Regions from separate parts of the Homo sapiens genome. Here region 2 is linked to region 1. The links come from fine-mapping of genetic effects on gene expression. A gene starts in region 1. The other region holds a variant in brackets. All regions are shown on one strand. Distances are from middle to middle.

Region 1 (5,378 bases):
CACCGTGCTAGCCTCCCGGATCAGCGGGAAAGACGTGGTGGCTGTGGCTGGGAATGTTACAATAGTCAAGGTAGACCTGTGAGACGGTGTCCACGAAAATGGTTGCCACCCGGAGGCTGAGAACTGCTGTTCTAAGTGATGCTGAGTCCCTTAAGGGACGTTACCAAATATTTTATTCATTTTCTACAATGGTATTGTTTGAATCATTTGCTTAAATTACTATTAAAAAAATTCTTCATGTCAAAATAAGTGAATAAAATGAAATATCTTAAGGCAGGGTTTTTTTTTTTTTCCTCCCTAGATGAAAGCAATGGTTCTCAACCTTGACTGCATATTGGAATCACCTGGGACTTTAGAAGCTACTGCTGCTGGTTCCCACCTCAGATGAGTTGGGGATGCAACCTCAGCAGCAAGATTTTTAAAAGCTCCCCCCTGGTTCTAATGTGCAGCCACCTCTCTTCCATGTGGGACAATGATGGATAAAGTTTTCTGATTGAGAATTTATGTAAAAACGTAGCACAGTAAGAGTACTCCAAAACTATCAGTTAAATTTAAATCTGATACCTGATATTGTTTGTTTTCAGTGCAATGATCTCATGTATACTGGATGTTACGAGTTTTGAGTTTTCTTCAACCCTCCCCACCAAATACCATTAAGTATTTTAATTACAATTGATAGGATACATATCTTTCACTATAGCTTATTACATGTAATATAGTGTCAATAAATATTCTTATAAATGAAAGCTTGTGAAATCTTGATTCCCCTATTACTTACTTCCCCTGATGTCACCCCAGTGATTACTGTTGCAGCAATGACGGCAACAGTATTTAGTATTTAGATGTCATATAGTTTTTTTGTTTTGTTTTGTTTTTTGAGACGGAGTCTTGTTCTGTCACCCAGGCTGGAGTGCAGTGGCACAATCTTGGCTCACTGCAGCCTCTGCCTCCCGTGTTCAAACAATTCTCCTGCCTCAGCCTCCCTAGTAGCTGGGATTACAGACACATGCCACTATGCCCGGCTAATTTTTGTATTTTTAGTAGAGACAGGGTTTCACCATGTTGGCCAGACTGTTCTCAAACTCCTGACCTCAAGTGATCCGCCCGTCTCAGTCTCCCAGAGTGCTGGGATTACACGCGTGAGCCACCGCATCCGGACTCCCAAGTAAGATTTCATTAGAACACCTTGCCATGAGTGTGCCTAATAAACCCAATGCAACTATTGCTGGATTTTTTTTTTTTTTTGAGACGGAGTCTCGCTCTGTCGCCCAGGCCGGACTGCGGACTGCAGACTGCAGTGGCGCAATCTTGGCTCACTGCAAGCTCCGCTTCCCGGGTTCACGCCATTCTCCTGCCTCAGCCTCCCGAGTAGCTGGGACTACAGGCGCCCGCCACCGCGCCCGGCTAATTTTCTGTATTTTTAGTAGAGACGGGGTTTCACCGTGTTAGCCAGGATGGTCTCGATCTCCTGACCTCATGATCCACCCGCCTCGGCCTCCCAAAGTGCTGGGATTACAGGCGTGAGCCACCGCGCCTGGCCTATTGCTGGATTTTTAACATACAACTCCTTCAAATTATTTATTCAAATATTATTTTGGAATATTAAAAATATATTTTTAGAATAGTAATTCAAATGTTTAGTTTTTGTTTTTTTTTTTTCTATTTTGTTAACACGTTCTTGATGTGCTGAAAACTGAACATTCAGTGGTTCACTCGTTCAGTAAACAGTTTTTGGGCACCTGAACTTGGTTGTGCTAGGCACTGGGTAATCAAAGTTTAAGCCCCAAGTTCTTCCAATAGCAAATAGTACAGCTGCATGCCACTAGCTTCTTACACACAGGTGGGTGACATACATGCCAAATGAAAATAATTTTACCCTTTCCCTCTATAATTTCAAGTACACTTTTAATTTTTGATATTATAGCCCTATTTGCTTAAACACTCTTCCATCTCTTCTCCTCTCCTTGTCTCCTTTTTTTCTTTTCTTTTTTTTTTTTTTTTTTGAGACAAAGTCTCACTCTGTTGCCCAGGCTGGAGTGCAGTGTCACGATCTTGGCTCACTGCATCCTCCTCCTCTCAGGTTCAAGCAATTCTCCCACCTCAGCCTCCTGAGTAGCTGGGACTACAGGCGTGCGCTACCACACCAGGCTAATTTATGTATTTTTAGTAGAGATGGGGTTTCACCATGCTGGCCAGGCTGGTCTTGAACTCTTGACCTCAAGTGATCCGCCTGCTTCGACTAGGATTACAGGTGTGAGCCACTACACCCGGCCCCCTCGTTTTTTTAAATAAAATTATAACATTAGGTGGGAAAAAACACTTTAAAAGTAGTTCTGTCAACTATTTTGGGGGCTGTGGGCCAGTCATTTAATCCATCTGAACCTGTTTCCTCTGCTGTGAAAGGGTGATACCCTCCTTGCCCTGTCCATCTCAGTTGTTATGGGGATTATGGAAGAAGCTATATGTAACATTAACATCAGAAATTTAAATATCCAGTTAAAGTGTAAATGGATATTATAAAACAATCTTTAAAAGAAACAAAGACACTATATATATATATATGGCTTATGCATCACTAGCACTTTGGGTTTCCGAAACCCCAACATGAAGTTTCACGAAAGTTGCATTCCATGGGAGTTTGCTTCCATGATGGATTTTTTACTTTGTACTTAGCTCCTGAAAAAGAAACTTCCTGGGTTTTCTTTTTTCCTCCTACGGTTTTGCAGCGGCTTGGCTGCTTCCTGTCAAGAGCCACTCTGCCAAGGCCCCGTCTCTAGAGTCTCTCCCCCTCCCCTTTCTCTTTCTTTCCAACACTTGCTACATTGAGAGGCTGATCCTGTGCAGAAGCCCTCCCTGCCTCGGCAGCGCGGCGCAGTGAGCATGCTCGGCCTCCTGCGGGAAGAGGAAGCGGCGGCATAGGAGTCATGCCAAGCATAGCCCTCATGTCAGCGCTGCCGGCTTGCAGCGGGCTGTGAGAGGGGCCGGCGCCGCTTTGTCCTAGGAAACGGGCTGCGCGTTTCTCTTTTTCACTCTTTTCCATTTCCAGGAAGGACTTGTAAGGACTTCTGAAACGCTGTTTTCATACTCGATCGGGGATACAGTACATACACCGTCTACCAGTAAGCCCTTGAAGGGTTTCGTGTGAGCTCGATTTTTTTGTGCCTGATTTTTTTTTTTTTAACTTTTGCATACTTTGTTTTGATAGTCTGAGGCTGGGCCTCTGCCTTTGTGAAGTTGAAGAGCCAGGAGCTACTCAGCAACAATTGATTTTTGAAACTTAACTCTTTTGGGGCAAAAGCAAAGAGCTGGTTTTCTTTGCTAGCCCAATAAATGCTATTTATGAAGATGGACCTGTTGAACTATCAGTACTTGGACAAGATGAACAACAATATCGGCATTCTGTGCTACGAAGGTAGATGTCCCGTTGTAGAATTACTGCCCGTTGCTCGTCCCGGCCACTCCTCCTCAGTGTGCTGGGTGCCTGCCTTCTAAGCGCCCGCTGTCCTCCTCCGGGGTGTAGGGCACTTGAAAGGCCGGCGTTTCTTAGGTTCGGTTCGGCACCGAGTGTGTTCGGATCTCAGGCTGCGGGGGGCGGTGGAGGGGGCTGGACGGGGAGGCAGTGAAGTAGAAACCCTTCAAAGTTTGCTCGTTGCTTGCAACGTACTCGCGCCTCACATTTTTAACTCTTTAAAATGTATGTATTTTTGATTTCCGTTAATATTGTCTTTAGGGGAAGGACTTGTAGGACGCCGGTAAAAGTTGAGCCTCTTTGGGGGAGGGGCTGGTAAGGATTGCACCGTCTACTGTACCCTGCTGTGGGCCACGGCGCCCTGCAGCTCACGGAGGGGGAGCCAAAGTTACAGCGAGTTTTTGTGCTCGCGAGTGAGCGTCCCAAACAGCGGAGAATGTCCCTCTCCCGCGTGGGGCCGGAAGGGCACCGTGTCAGCGAGCACAGGCGGGCTCTTTGTCTCGCTGGCGCTTCCTGTGCAGCCCGGGGAGCGCTGACACTGGGGGGTGTTCCTCGCGCTCCGCTCCCTGTGGGAGCGATTACACAACACCCCGACCCCCAGCCTGCCCTGAAAAAGAGAGAGCCGCGCCGAACTGTTATTTATTACCTCCTACTGCCCGCGAGGTGCTTCCCCCACTGTCTTGTATTTCCAACTGTCTCTGGTAGCAGTCAGAGAAAAATCTATTTCTTAAGCCCTCGGACATCCTCTACGTGCGATTTGAAAAAGTGGCAATGGCCCTGGGTCTGCCGCCGAGGGCATCTCCGGGGGAGTTCGGCCTGGCAGGAAGAGTGTTTTCTGTTGTAACCACACACACATCCGGGACTCTTCTCTTTCTCATTCAGCAGGAGCAGTTTCCATTTTTTCTCCAATAATACACGGGACATTTCTCTTGAAAAAGAAAACAGTTACAAAAACTTGGGAGGGTGATTCACTTGTATTTTTTTAATCTAAAAACTTCAGGCCTGTTTCCTAATCAGTTGAAAACTCACCCTTTCAAGAGTATTTTTCCCCTTCAAGGAAAAAAAACAACAACAACCCTCATTCACGTTGTTTTTTAAAACTCTATGGATGAGGATCTCATATTTAACGTTTTTTAAAAAGAGTATTTGTTTTTCTTTACTCCTACTAGTTCCTGCTATGAGAATTTTCGTGAATTTCTTTCTTTGCATCTGATGTGTTAAGTAACATCTTGCTTCTGAACTCACTTAAAAAAGGCAGCCGACTTTAGAAAGCCGTAAGCAGCCATTGCTGGGCTTGTTTCCCGTGACATTCACACATTGTAGTCAGGGTTTTGTTTTTCTTGTTTTTTTTTTTTTTAACCATCCCCGCTTCCCCCAACAAGAAAGAAAAACTTCTGAGGCAATTTCTGTTGTATTGTCTTTGCCAACAAGTAATACGATATTTTAAAAACAAAACATAATGGCCTAAGAGAGAAATATAAGATTGTTAGGAAATTGATACCAGATTAGTTTTTCCTGTCTCCGATTGGTGAGGACCAACTTACGGACAGCGAGCCCAGGTCGAGTTGTTGTGTAGCATGCAACACCCAGGAAACTAGAGTGCTCTGCTCTGCTCTTCTCTCTCGGTATTTGGGAGGAAGAAACTTTGATTTTGAAGATTGAGTAGCTATATGGGATAATGGGCTGAAGTCTGTTTGGTTTAAACATCTGCTCCTATTTTCCTTATTATGAGAGTTAACATTATTTTAACACCAGAATAAATACAGAGGAAATGAAGGAAAGCACAGCAAAATTTGAGTGGTGTTTATAGTGAATTGTTGATGTCCTAGTGGTTTTCTCAGTGTAAACACTGCACACATCTGGTCTGAACTCCAGAGGGTGTTTTGAAGATGGGCATAAATCACACACG
Region 2 (5,378 bases), 180 kb after region 1:
TATAAAGCAGTAAATAAGACATATAATGTCTTTGCCTTTATGGGGATTATATTTGAGTGGGGCTGGGGTGGTAGACAGAACACAAATAAATAATAATGCCAAACGGTGATAAGTCCCACATAGGAAACAGGACAAAGGAATAAAAAAATAGGGCCAGGCGCATTGGCTCACGCCTGTAATCCCAGCACTCTGGGAGGCCAAGGCAGGTGGATTACCTGAGGTCAGGAGTTCAAGACCAGCCTGGCGAACATGGTGAAACCCCGCCTCTACTAAAAATACAAAAATTAGTCAGGCACGATGGTGGATGCCTATAATCCAGCTACTCGGGAGGCTGAGGCAGAAGAATCGCTTGAAGCTGGGGGGCGGAGGTTGCAGTAAGCCGAGATCGCACCATTGCACTGCAGCCTGGGCGACACAGGGAGACTCCATCTCAAAACAAAACGAAACAAAACAAATTACGGTTGAGGTAATATTTTATGTCCATTTTACGGATTAGGAAAATGAGAACAACAGGTTAGGTGAGTTGTTCAAAGACTTCCCAGCTAATAAGTAGTGAATTTAAACTCAGGTTGGTCTGACTCCAGAGTTGTTACTAACCACTGCCCCATGCTATCTCTTTGGCTTCCTGAGAAACCAAAGAATCTGCAGAAGTGATAGGGTTAAGAAGCCATCAGTTTTTTTTGTTTGTTTTTGTTTTTTTCTGAGATGGGGTTTCACTCTTGTTGCCCAGGCTGAAGTGCAATGGCATGATGTCAGCTCACTGCAACCTCTGCCTCTCGGGTTCAAGTGATTCTCCTGCCTCAGCCTCCAAAGCAGCTGAGATTACAGGCGCCCGCCACCACACCTAATTTTTTGTATTTGTAGAGATGGGGTTTCACCATGTTAGTCAGGCTGATCTCAAACTCCTGACCTCAGGTGATCTGCCCGCCTCGGCCTCCCAAAGTGCTGGGATTACAGGTGTGTGCCACCATGCCCAGCTCCATCATTATTTTTAAAAGTCCCTCCATTTAGGACATAAAAATTTCTGAGATCTGTGAACACAAATGAGTGTACTACAAGCTGTCATTCTGATGCTAATGCATCCAACAGTTGAGTTTCTATAGATGATATTGAACATAAAGGTGCTATAATCCTTCATACAACCCTCTGAGAACTGCTTTTTCCGAAAAGAGCAGTAAGAGCACAAAGGCTTACAGAGTTTAAGAAACCTGTTGTAAATAATGGAACTTATAAGCACCGACGCTGTAGTCTAGGCCTCGTGCCTGTGACTACAGTGCTTTTTCCATTACACCATGCTGCCTTCCAGAAGAGTCCCCAAGGAGTTACATTTTTCTCCCACTGGGAGACAAGGCAGTAACTAACTTGGCAGAACAGAAAGAAATGAGTGACTGTTTTGTGTCTCTGCCAAGCAAGTATTCATGCCCTTTGCAATATGACGTGGACACAAAACCAACTGATCTTTAGCAGCTAAGCATTCTAGAATTTGCTGAAGAATTTTCTCACCTTACCCGTATGGGGTCCAAAATTAAGAGGGGAAAAACATATTTATGTCTCATTCAGAATTCAAAAAGCAATAAATCCTTCAAGCCCCTGGCAAGTTTCTTTAATCCACTGTAATCATGTTTCCTTGTATAACAAGTCTTGTGATGTCTGCAGCAGCTTCTCGCTAGAGGAACAGCAGCCTCAATGCTGGAGTTCTTCTCATGCCTGGGGGATTATTCCATTTTCCACATTAGGAATAAGCCGCAGACTTTAGGTTCTAAAACGGAGCCAGAAAATGCTGACTAGAATCCAGATGCCCTAAATATAATTAGAGCTAAATTTTACTGCCCTCTGTGAAAGACACAAATGAAAAGAATGTACCAACTTTCAGAATATTGATCCAGAGAGCAAAGTTATGAATAGAGCCAGCATGGGTTCTGCTGCACTGAGAGGCCCTTAAAGCTAACCAGGGGCTTTCCAATTCTCTCCCCTTCTTCTTATCCCTGGGTTTTTAATTTTTATAGAAGCCAAATATATTAGGGAAGGAAGAGGGGCTACAGGCTTTTTTATTTTTATTTTTTTGAAGCAGGGTCTCGCTGTCGCCCAGGTTGGTGTGCAGTGGTGCAATCACTGCTCACTGCAGCCACGACCTCCTGGGTTCAAGCAATCCTTCCCCCTCAGTTCTCCAAGTAGCTAGGACTACAGGTGTGTGCCACCACGCCCAGCTAATTTTTATTTTTTATTATTATTTTTTACTAACTTTTTGTAGACATGGGGTTTCACTCACGCCCAGGCTGGTCTCACACTCCTAGCCTCAAGCAATCATCCCACTTCGGCCTCCCAAAGTGTTGAGATTACAGATGTGCACCCAGACTTACAGGCTCATTTTTTTTTTTTTTTGAGACAGAGTCTCTCTCTGTCACCCAGGCTGGAGTGCAGTGGCGTGATCTTGGCTCACTGCAAGCTTTGCCTCCTGGATTCACGCCATTCTCCTGCCTCAGCCTCCCGAGTAGCTGGGACTACAGGTGCCCACCACCATGCACAGCTAATTTTTGAATTTTTAGTAGAGATGGGGTTTCACCGTGTTAGCCAGGATGGTCTCGATCTGGATCCACACGCCTCGGCCTCCCAAAGTGCTGGGATTACAGGTGTGAGCCACTGTGCCCGGCCCAGGCTCATTTTAATAAACCAGGTTTTCACTCAGCTCTAGAACTCTCTGGAGGTGTCCTTACACACACACACACACACACACACAC[T/ACT]TTAGGTTTTTAGAGATTGATTTGATAAGAAAAAAAATTTTTCCTTTACAGCCAATGACTTCTCTCTACATCTTTAATAAGGCTGTGATTGTTGATGACGATGATGATAGATGTGGCATCTGTTGAGTGTTTACTATGTGCCCAAGAACTGTGCAAAGTGCTTCAAATACATTATATTACTTAATCCTAACAGTACCCAAACAAGGTTGCTATTTCCATTTTATAGTAAAGGGGCCAAGTCCTAGGATGACTCTGCAACTTGCCCAAGGTGTCACACAGCAAAGAAGCAGTAGAGCTATAATTTGAAAATAGGGGGTCAGACTCCAGAACCTATTCGGCAATAAAAGGTAAAAGCCCTGTCCCCTCTGCAAAAAGCCACTGCTTCTAGCTACTCGCAATGACTTTCACAGAAATAACTTTCTGTATTTGTCTTTCGTTTGGGGGATATTTAATTAAATGGTATAATTAAAACAACAAGTCCATCTGGCATTCCCAGGTTTGGCAAGAAACAAGAATGACTCTTGGAAAGCCCAGGCCTCAGCTGGTGGGAGCAGAAGTGTGCTGGTGTCCTAGGAACCAGGCTGCCAGCTAAGAATGTTCAGCCTCCCCCCGTACTTTACCGAGGGGGTGCGGAGTTAACCAACTGGGACATTCCATTAATGGAAAGTCAATTAGAAAAGATTTACTGAATACATAATTTTTTAATTTTTAATTTTGAGACAGGGTCTTGCTCGTTCACCCAGGCTGGAACGCAGTAGTGCAAGTCATGGCTCACTGCAGTCTCGACCTCTTGGGTTCAAGCAATCCTCCCACCTCAGACTCCCAAGTAGCTGGGACTTCAGGTGCATAACACCATGCCTGGCCAATTTTTGTATTTTTTGTAGAGATGGGGTTTCACCATGTTGCCCAGGCTAGTCTCAAACTCCTGGGCTCAAGTGATCCGCCTGCCTTGGCCTCCCAAAGTGCTGGGATTATAGGCATGAGCCACTATGCCTGGCCAATTTTTTTACAAAAGCATACTACACCTGTTGTTTTTCAACCTGCTCTTGTCACTTAAATGATTTAATCATTCCTCTTCCTGATATGCTCTCAGGTTTGTCACAAACACCTTTGGTTTTGCCACCATCCTGTCTTCCTGGGACCACCACCTTCTTATGGAAACTGCTTTTTCCCCCACACCAACCACGTTCCTTTACAGACTCTGCCTCTCTAGTCTAACTTGACTGGTCCCAAAATGAGCAAGAGAGCCAGCTGGGCCCACATATGAGAGTTTGGGGTGTGAGAAGTCCAGGGCCAGTGCATGCCAGGCAACTGAAGCTATGGATTATGAGGCTCTGGAGCTGCCAGTAGTCACACTTCCTGTCTAGCAGAAGACGCCAGTCTGCAGGGAGAGAACCTGTTCCTATCAGAACTGTAGAAAAAAGCTAACTTTTCTTTCCATTATGTTCAATGCTCCAACACTCTCCACCTATGATAATTCAAGGTGGGTTTATGTCACTTGAAACCAAGAGTCCTGAATCATTTAAAAATGATGCCAGGAGTAAAGAGTTGAAAGTAACCAAGTCTAAATGCGGGAAGGGCTGACATGAATTGGGATGGGAGGCCATAAGAAATATCCCATCCAGGGTGGAGAAATTCCCAAGTTCTGTTACAAAGTACTGAACCAATTGGTTCAACAAGACTGAAGGTTTAGCAGACCATTCTGAGGGAAGTATCTGATTATTGAGGATCACTGTCTACTTTTTGCAACATTCCATACATTTTGAAGGGAGGCCTCTTCTGCTTTTGGTCAGCAACCTGAGTCCTCTCAAGCTTACAAAGGCTGAATTTTCTGCTGCAAGCTGAAGTCAGTAGTAGTTAGGGAAAGAGTGGGAGTATGACAATGGATAGAAATATCTGAGAGGGGCCGGGCATGGTGGCTCACGCCTGTAATCCCAGCACTTTGGGAGGCGGAGGAGGGCAGATCACCTGAGATCAGGAGTTTGAGACCAGCCTGATCAACATGGCAAAACCCCATCTCTACTAAAAATTCAAAATTAGCTGGGCATGATTGCACATGCCTGTCATCCCAGCTCCTTGGGAGGCTGAGGTGGAAGAATCGCTTGAACCCAGGAGGCAGAGGTTGCAGTGAGCAGAGATCGCACCATTACACTCCAGCCTGGGCAACAAGAGCAAAACTCTGTCTCAAAAATAAATAAATAAATAAATAAATAAATAAATAAATAAATAAATAAATAAATAAATAAAAATATCTGAGAGGAGCCAGGGCCCTTGTGTTACATATTTATGTATGTTACGATGTTTGAACATCTTTTAAAAAACCTTTCTAGCTGGGAAGACTGCCCCTGGGGGGGTGGCGAGAGGATAGTTAATTCTTAGAGCCAGCAAAGGGCCCAGCCAGGAGTACACTTCTGACATGCGAACTAACCAATTCAGAGCCACACCTCCTCTATCTGGCCCAACACCCGAAGAGGCAAAATTCCTCTGCTTTCATCATCCCAGGGCCAGGTACAGTCAACTAGGGACCATTCCTATAGCTTAGGGCCCCTGAGATTATTCAAACTAGCCAACCCTAAAGTGTTCACGCTGCCCTGCCTTGACTTTTCCAAGGAAACCCCCATCATGGCTTTACCTTAATGC

Alleles and levels. Positions count from the first base shown, and alleles are read on the strand shown. Sizes are in standard deviations (SD) of each study's normalised expression.
In carriers of allele T in region 2, the expression in prefrontal cortex of the gene that starts at base 2,934 in region 1 tends to be higher than with ACT alone (small effect, 0.22 SD a copy in ROSMAP).

Evidence for each region. PIP is the estimated chance that this variant, and not a neighbour inherited with it, causes the effect.
Region 2: its variant is the best candidate, but not a certain one, in a credible set for the expression of VGLL4 in prefrontal cortex (ROSMAP, PIP 0.66).

Annotation. Positions count from the first base shown.
Region 1 is chr3:11,641,471-11,646,848 of GRCh38, reverse strand. VGLL4 (vestigial like family member 4) reads left to right here and starts at 2,934. Exons shown (of 5, transcript NM_001128219.3): 1 at 2,934-3,412. The coding sequence starts at 3,331. RefSeq lists enhancers at 2,711-2,790, 3,981-4,350.
Region 2 is chr3:11,462,449-11,467,826 of GRCh38, reverse strand. All of the region lies in intron 20 of ATG7 (autophagy related 7), which reads right to left. Among named protein-coding and RNA genes, the nearest start is that of VGLL4, 180 kb to the left of the region's middle. The variant T/ACT (reference allele first, on the strand shown) is at 2,739.